2 separate regions of the Homo sapiens genome follow, and region 1 is linked to region 2. The links come from fine-mapping of genetic effects on gene expression. A gene starts in region 2. The other region holds a variant in brackets. All regions are shown on one strand. Distances are between the middles of the regions. Region 1 overlaps TEX22 (testis expressed 22). Region 2 holds the start of NUDT14 (nudix hydrolase 14).

What was found. PIP is the estimated chance that this variant, and not a neighbour inherited with it, causes the effect. A credible set is the group of variants that fine-mapping cannot tell apart.
Region 1: its variant is the best candidate, but not a certain one, in a credible set for the expression of NUDT14 in putamen (GTEx, PIP 0.66).

What each region holds. Positions count from the first base shown.
Region 1 is chr14:105,402,569-105,406,951 of GRCh38, reverse strand. The region is part of intron 2 of TEX22 (testis expressed 22); the gene reads right to left. Among named protein-coding and RNA genes, the nearest start is that of TEX22, 6.2 kb to the right of the region's middle. The variant A/G (reference allele first, on the strand shown) is at 1,796.
Region 2 is chr14:105,179,659-105,184,041 of GRCh38, reverse strand. It overlaps NUDT14 (nudix hydrolase 14), which reads left to right and starts at 2,730. Exons shown (of 5, transcript NM_177533.5): 1 at 2,730-2,913. The coding sequence starts at 2,833. RefSeq lists a silencer at 2,561-3,030.

The DNA.
Region 1 (4,383 bases), 220 kb before region 2:
AAAAAGGTCCCCAAACCATGACCGTGCAAATTATTTGAAAAGATACAAAAAGAACAGCAAAAGAAATGGTCTGAAAGCTTAAAGATGAAATTAGGAAAGATTAATGACTAAATTAAAATTTAAAAATGGTGAATAATGATCACAATGGGCTCTTTGAAAAACCAATAAAACAGACTTACTCTTTCCTTACATCCTCACCAACTCCACATAGATCCACCTTTATAATTTTTGCCAACTTTTTCACTGTTTCATTTAGTTCCTTTTTTTTTTTTTTAGGAACTGCAAGTACGTAGACTTAATTCATTTTTTTCCTCCTTTTTTTTAAAGATACAGGGTCTTGTTCTGCCTCCCGAGCAGCTGGGAGCCTACAGTGGCACGCCACCCGGGCTAATTTTTATTTTTTGCAGAGATAGGGTTTCACTATGCTGTCCAGACTGGTCTTGAACTCCTGGCCTTAAGTGATCCTCCTGCCTTGGCCTCCTGAAGTGCTGGGATTTACAGCAGTGAACCACTGTGCCTGGCCCACTTTTCTATCCAGTTTTAAAAATAGTTTCCTCATTGCTTTCAAGCATCTCTTCATAGATTCTGGTTGGTAAACATTTGAATGTTATAAATATTACAAGTATTTTCTTCCAGGCTGTCGTTTAACATTTTTGTGTCTTTGATTGCACAGAAATGTTTAAAAACTCTGTAGTTAGATTTGTCAGGCTTTTCCTTCAAGGATTTTGTGTTTGGCCTACGAAAGGCACTTATCACTTCCAGATCCCAAATATTCTCTCATATACTCTCTCAGTGCTCACATGGTTTGGGTTTAATGTTTTTTGTGTGTGCATTTTTTTGAGAGACGGACCCGCACTCTACCGTCTTCTAACTATACAGCCAATCACCCCAATACCACTTATTGAAAGGTCTGTTTCTCACTACTCTGAAATGCCATGCTCAACATAAATTAAATCCCCACATTTATGCACAGGTTGGTTTCCGGGTTACTTGTCCAGGCAGTGGTGTCTTTGCCACCTTCTGCCACAGGGCCACACAGTTTTAGTTGTTGGAGCTGGTGCGGACAAGCCAGGCCTTGCTCTTATTTTCCAAAATTGTTGTATGGTTCCTTTTCCAAGTAAACATTTTAAAACATCTTTATTTTTTCAAATTATACTTTAATGAATATTGGCAATATCTTGTTTACTTCTGCATGCTTTTGAACTCTGAACAAAGCCACATGGCATGAATAATTTTGTCACCTTTTTGCCTCTTTCACTCAGGAACAGGTCTATGAGACTCACGCTCACGGCTGCACGCAACAGGCGTCCACACAACCACATTCCCAAATCCGAGGTAAGTTTGCTGTTTGACAGAAAAATGCAATGTGAACTGATGCACGGCCGTTTGGTGTCCATCTTCACCCTGCGGTTGGAATATTCCTGTGCTTACCGCTGCACACGTTCACAACCCTACCGCTGAATTTGGTTGTTTTCAACCCACTCTGACAATGTCTGTCTTTTAACTGGAACACTTAGTCCGTTTTCATTGACTGAATTAAATGACGTACCGGCGATTCTATCTGCCATCGTATCTCCTTCTGTTCTTCTGCTGTAATATGTGAGGGCAGGCAAACTCATCTAACTCCAAAGATGACAAGCAACTCGATCTTTTTTTTTTTTTGAGTCAAGGTCTGGCTCTGTTGCCCAGGCTGGAGTGTGGTGGTGCAATCTCAGCTCACTGCAGTTTCCGCCTCACAGACACAAGTGATCCTCCTGCCTCAGCCTCCACGTAGCTGGCACTACAGGTACATGCC[A/G]CCATGCCTGGCTAACTTTTTGTGATTTTTTTATAGAGATGGGGTTTTGCCATGTTGCCAGGCTGAGCTCAAGCAATCCTCCCACCTAGGCCTCCCAAAGTGCTGGGATTACAGGTGTGAGCCACCATGGCCCACCCCCCTCCTCTTCTCAGAGGAACTGAGAACACTTTAGTTCCACTCACAGGCACCATCTTGACATTTATGCCATTGCAGGTACATATATTGATTGTATCCTTGCTTTTCTGTGCATGAGTGACATCCAGTGACTGTCAGTTTCAGTTTACTCAGACACTTCCTACTTCCTCTCATGCTTTATCCATTTCAGACCTTTCATCACTTTCATGATGCTTTGAGATCATTTCTTCAGAACTGAGGTGAGAGTGTGCTGGGGGCAAATTCTCTTTTTTATCATTTAAAAACTTTACTTAGCCCTTTGTATAATCCATTTTTGCTGGGCCTGCTATTCCAGGCTGAGCATGGCTTCCCCTGAGCACAGGCATGCTACTGCTCTACTGTGACGAGCTCCCGTGGCTGCTTTGAAGGTTCTGTCTTCCCACTCAAATTGCTTCTGAGGTTTTTGTCGCTGGCATTCTACAATTTCACTATTATGCTTCTCAGTACATAATTTCTTAAAGCGTATAGACTAAATGACTGCCTGTGAGAGCTGTCCTCCAAGATGGCATCCAATGATCCTCACCTCCTGGTATCCATGCCCCTGTGTCGTCCCCTCTCACACTAAATAGGATGACCAGTGTATCCAAAACGGATACTGTAGAAAGAGAGGAGTGTGACTTCCAAGGTTAAGTCATGGAAGTCATTGCAGCTTTCAGCTCACTCTCTCCACTCACTCACTCTGGGGGAAGCCAGCCCCCATACTGAGGATACTGAAGCTGTCCTATGGGGAGATCCACGTGGTAAGGAGCTGAGCCTCCTGCCAGCCCCTATCATGGACTCGCCAGTCATGTGAGTGAGCTGCCGTGGAAGCAGTCTCCAGCCTTCCTCAAGCTTTGAGATGACTGAAGTGTTGACTGCTATCTCAACTATAAGCTCCTGAGAGATCTCAAACCAAAGCCACCAGCTAAGCAGCTCCCAAATTTCTGACCTACGGAAACTAAGATAAAAATACTTACTGTTTTAAGTTGCTAAGCTCTGGGGAAATTTGTCATGCAGCAATGGATAACCAATACATTGCCAAAGGCTGGGTATGGTGGCTCATGCCTGTGATCCCAGCTCTTAGGAAGGCCAGGAGTTAGAGACCAGCCTAGGTAACATAGTGAGACCCTGTCTGTAATTTTTTTTAAAAAGTAAACTAGTAATACATTTCCAGAATCACTATGTACATTTAAAATGAAATTTTCAAGATTCATGAAGTCTGTTTTTTTAAAAAACACTGAATTGTTTTTGGGAAGCTTGGCATGTTTAAAACGTTAAATCTGGCTGGGCGCAATGGCTCATGCCTATAATCCTAACACTTTGGGACCCCAAAGCTGGAGGATCACATGAGCCCAGTTCAAGACCACACCAGGCAACACAGTAAGACCCCATCTCTGCAAAAATTTTTTTAAAATTAGCTAGGCATGGTGGCATGCCACTGTGGTCCCAGCTACTTGGGAGGCTGAGGTGGGAGGATAGCTGGAGTCCAGGAGGTCCAGGCTGTAGTGAGCTGTGATTAGAGAAGCAGGAGTCTAGGAGAGCCAGGATAACATCATTTTATGTTCAACTCCACCTTGAGACTAATAGAGCACATTCCTTACAGGTCACAACCACGGACCTAAGATGTTTACAGCTAAGGAAGCAGCTTGGTAATGCCTACAAGGACAAACTCATAGAAAAGGAAGTTCAGATGTCCCAACACCCACAATAATATATGCTTTCAAGATAATTATAGTGATGCTTTAATGTACTTGCACACTAAAATGTAAAATAGTTTCCTTTTAATCAATAGAATAATAAATTGTTATGCTGTCAGCCCACCCACACGTAGGCACAGCTTGGTCTTTACATAGATAAGACCTCGATATAAGAAAAACTAAAAACAAAGTAGGTCTGTTCCTCTGCTTGCTTGTTGAGGATGCCCTGCTCTGCAGTGGAGCGGCTTTCAATAAATGATCTCTTCTCACTGCACTCTGCAGCTCGCCTCAAACTCCTTCCTGCATGAGATCCAAAAACCCTCTCTTGGGGTCCAGATGGAGATCCCTTTTCCAGTAACACTGTGATCATACCACTGTACTCCAGCCTGGTGACAGAGCAAGACCCTGTCTCAAAAACACACATATGAAATCTGCCCATCCAATATGATAACCATCTCCATCAGGAGCTCTACATGCTATTCAGTAACATTGTAAAGTGTTCTTCATGAAGGAATTGAACAACAGGTTTCTCTTTTTTTTTTTTTTTTTTTGAGACGGAGTCTCGCTCTGTCGCCCAGGCTGGAGTGCAGTAGCGCAATCTCGTCTCACTGCAAGCTCCGCCTCCCGGGTTCACGCCATTCTCCTGCCTCAGCCTCCCGAGTAGCTGGGACTACAGGCGCCCGCCACCACGCCCGGCTAATTTTTTTGTATTTTTTAGTAGAGACGGGGTTTCACCGT
Region 2 (4,383 bases):
TAAAATTTGTTTAAAATGGAACTGAAATTCACAGAACATTAAACACTTCACAGTGCACACTGAGCGGCATTCAGTACATTCATACTGCTGTGCGGCCACCAGCACTGCCTGCTTCCAGAATGCCTTCTTCACCCCAAACGGAAAGGAAAGCCGGCACCCATTAGTCAGCATTCTTCATTCTCCCGCCCTCAGCCCCACCAGTCCGCAGCTGCTTTTCCGTCTCATGGATTTACCTGTTCTGGACATTTTCTTTTTTCTTTCTTGCTTTTTGTCTCCCTCCCTCCCTTTCTCTGCCTTGCCTTGCCTTGCTTTGCCTTTGCCTTTGCCTTTGCCTTTCTTGATGGAGTCTTACTCTGTCACCCAGGCTGGAATGCAGTGTCAAGATCTCAGCTCACCGCAACCTCTCCCTCCCGTGTGCAAGCGATTCTCGTGCCTCAGCCTCCCGAGAAGCTGGGATTACAAGCACACACCACCACGGCTGGCTTTTAGTAGAGACAGGGTTTCACCATGTTGTCCAGGCTGGTCTCGAACTCTTGACATCACGTGATCTGCCTGCCTCGGCCTCCCAAAGTGCTGGGATTACAGGCATGAGCCACCGCGCCCGGCCTGGACATTTCATATACACAAAATCGCAGAGGACACGGCCTTTGTGTCTGGCTTCTTTTGCTGAGCATAGTGTCGCTGTCGCTTGTGTGGGAATTTCTCTCCTCATGGCTGAGTTGTGCTACCTTACACGTCTACACTGCATTTTCTGGATCCATTCACCTGGCAACGGATGCTTGGGTTGTTCTTCCCTTTGGCTGCTGTGAGGAAGCATCTGTCTGAGTGTCTGTTTTCAACTCCTTTGGGTGGATACCCAGGAAGACAGTTGCTGGACCACAGGGTAATTCTATGCTTAACTTTTTGAGGAGCCGCCAGGCTGCGTCCCACAGTGGGCTCCTTGCTGATATTTTCAGGCACTCAGCTCTGCAGTCTGCACTGCCAGACACCTGGACCCGAGTGAGTCTGAGGAGCACGGTGCTTTGAGGAGCTGCTGGCTCTCCCAGGGGCTCCTTGATGGGGCTCCTGTTGCCTCTGCCTGTCCCGGGGCTGCTGCTGCTGGAAGCTGAGACTCATCCTCATTTTCCATGCAACCACGGGCAGGAAGGAGCCTGCACGCGACATGCCAGGGTGCGCGCTTACCCTGGGCCCCTCGTGCACCGGAGGAAGAGGCCTGCCTGGCTGTGGGGTAGGGTGGGGCCAGCTTCTGGGCTGGGCGCTCTGGCTTCCGGGACACCAGGCGGAATGGCTAAAGCAGGGAGACACAGGCCCCTGTAGAGCTACTGGGGCGGTGACAGCTGGACTTGGATGCTGGCTTCATGACCGTGCTCCCCAGCGTTCCCACCTGGTGATGTCCCTCCCCTGGAATCTGCCGGAGGCCCAGGACTTTCTGACCCACAGGATGCCCCAGGAATGACACCATATGACATCTGAGGCCAGGTCACACAAAGCCTGGCAGCTTGGCCTGGCCTGGTGAACGTGCTCTGGAGGGAGCCAGCTGCCACGGGAGAATCCAACTACCCCGAGACCACCATGCTGCAGGGAAGCCCACGCCAGCCACATGGGAGGCCAGCCGGCCCTAGCTGTTCCAGCCACCCAACTGAGGGCGGGGGCGAAGAGGCCATCCTGGACGGTCCACCCCGTTTGGCCTTCAGACGACTCCAGCCCCAGCTGCCACCTGATTACAACTGCAGAGAGACCCCAAGACAGGGCTGCCTGGCTGAGCTGGGCAACCCACAGGCCAGGCGATAACGGGGTGCTTTAAGGCACTAAGCTTTGGAGGAGTGTTTTGTTACACGGCAATAGTTAACAGGGAACTGGGAGTCGATTTCAAGCTCACATGGCCAGTCCACCCTGAGCATGTCCCCTGGGCCATAGTTCAGAAAGCAGGTGCAGGTCAGGGTTCAGGGCCAGTGTGGGCCTCAATATTGTTTCCTGCCCCCGTGGAGGCCGTGGTGGCATTTGGAGGGGGTCCTTGGAATCCATGCCCAAGGAAGCACTGAAGCTGCCTGGGACCCTCCCACACCCAGGAAGGGCCGTCATCAAGGTAGGACTTGCAGGGGGAGGGAAGGGCAGCTGGCTTTTGAGTGGAGGAGGGACAGCTCCAGAGACAGCGTGGCAGCTCCCAGCCACCCTCGCCACCAGGAACCTCGAGGGGAGGCCCCCTCGGCCCAAGCTCTGGCCCCTCCAGCTCCCTACTCTCCTCTCCCCTAGCTTCCTTCCAGGGCCCTCTCTCTTTGGTCTCCTGTGATTTTCTTCCTGGGCCCACAGTCCCTCCCTCCCTGGGGGGCTGCCCCGCCCCCGGCCCCGCCCGCGGACCCCTGGAGTAACTTAATCTCGGGGTTGTGGTCCATCCCCAGAGTGGGGAGGCATCCGCTCGGCCCATCGCACCCCAAAGCTGCAGGCCCTTAGCTCCAACCACCGCCAGGCCCTCCCTCCCCCAGCCAAGAGGTCCCGAGTCCCACCCAAGCACTGTACCCCGGCCCGGCTGGCCCCGCCCGGCGGCCGGGGTCGACCCGGCCAGTCCTTCCCCCGGGCGACGCCCACGTGCCTGCGCGGCTTCCCTGGCACCGCGGCGACCAGCGCCCCGAGGCGCGCGGCACCCGACAGGTGGCACCTGCGAGCCCCGCCCACCTCGGCCGCCCCGCCCACCTCGGCCGCCCCGCCCCGCGCGCCCACGGAGCATGCTCAGAGCCGCGGTCACGCGCCCGCCCGAAGGCTCCTGTCGGGACAGGGCGCCGCCCCGTGTCGGCCCCCGCAGAGCTCGCGGCCCCCGCCTGTCCGGGCGCCGCCATGGAGCGCATCGAGGGGGCGTCCGTGGGCCGCTGCGCCGCCTCACCCTACCTGCGGCCGCTCACGCTGCATTACCGCCAGGTGAGCCCGCGCCCCCGCGTCCCCCGCGCCCCCGCCGGCGGCCCGGCCCACGACCCGCGCCCCGCCCACCATCTTCCGCGCTGCCGGCCCCGCCCCGGAGCCCCGCCCCCGCCTCCCGCCGATCTCCCGGGCGGCCGCTTGTCCGCCCGCCGGATCGCGGGTTCCCAGACCCAGTGAGCCCCCAGGCCGGGGAGGGGCCGCGGGAGGGACATCTGAGGGGGCACCACTCATCCTTTCAAGGAAGCATTGCTGGGCCCCATCCTTCCCGCCCGCCCAATCCGACCCTCTTGGCAGTGGAACTCCTTGGTTGCCCTGGGGATCAGGGAAGGCTTCCTGGAAGTGGTGGCTTTCATGCTACCACTTGAAGGAGGAGATAGCTGGGCCGAGGAGGAGGGAGCAAGGAGCGCAGAGGCCGGGCGCAGGGAGGTAGGAGAAGGAGCTGAGTGAGAACTTGAGAGAGCCTCTCAAAGCAGGCTTCCTCCTTGGGGTTTTTTCCAGGGAGGGCACCTCCTTGGAGTCTCCATCTGCCTAAGCTCAGCCTTCCCCACCTCCTAGGGTGTCACCTTCTCCCATGCCAGGCCACGGCACAAGAGGCTGTATTGCCTCACTTAGCACCAGGCACATGGTAGGTTCACAAGGAATATTTTGTTTTGTTTTGTTTTTGAGACAGGGTCTTGCTGTCGCCCAGGCTGGAGTGCAGTGGCATGGTCACAGCTCACTGCAGCCTCAACCTCCTGGGCTCAAGCGATCCTCCTGCCTCAGCCCCCGCCCCAGTAGCTGGGACCACAGGTGCACACCACCACACCTGGCTAATGTTTAAATTTTTTTGTAGAGACGACGTCTCACTGTTGCCCAGGCTGGTCTTGAACTTCTGGCCTCAACCGATCCTCCTGCCTTGGCTTCCCAAAGCATGGGGATTACAGGCATGAGGCATATGTGTTGGGTGAAGGAGCTGCTGCCATCCTTTTCCCACATCCAGTGGATCACTGAGTCCCGGGCCGTCTTCCTCCAAGCCCAGCCCTGTCCAGTTAGGGCCCCACCTTTTGCTTGCATGCCCACCTGCCCCCAGCAGATCTCCCCTCTGCCAGAGCTCCTTCATGCCATTAAGGCAAAGACCACCTTCCTGGTCACAGTCAGTCCAGCCCCCCAGCCTATCAGGTCAGGTGGTCCAGGTCGCAGTGCCTCTCTGCCTGCCTGCCTCCCTCCCTCAGGGGGCATCCTGTCCCCCCCATCACATCCAGGACTCTGCCCCTCGCCATCCTGGAGAAGCCCTCTTGGCCCCCAGCCTGAGAGAGGCCCTGTGCCCCTCACTTTCCCTGTTGCGGGAGTCCTGTTGGCGCTGGAGGACAGGGGATCCCTCTCCCCAAGGCGAAGCTAAGCTGGTGGTGCTGGCAGGGGGCAGCTGGGATCAGTCGGGGTACAGCAGGTGGAGACATGGGGTCACTGCCCTTTTCCCTGACGTTGGCCATA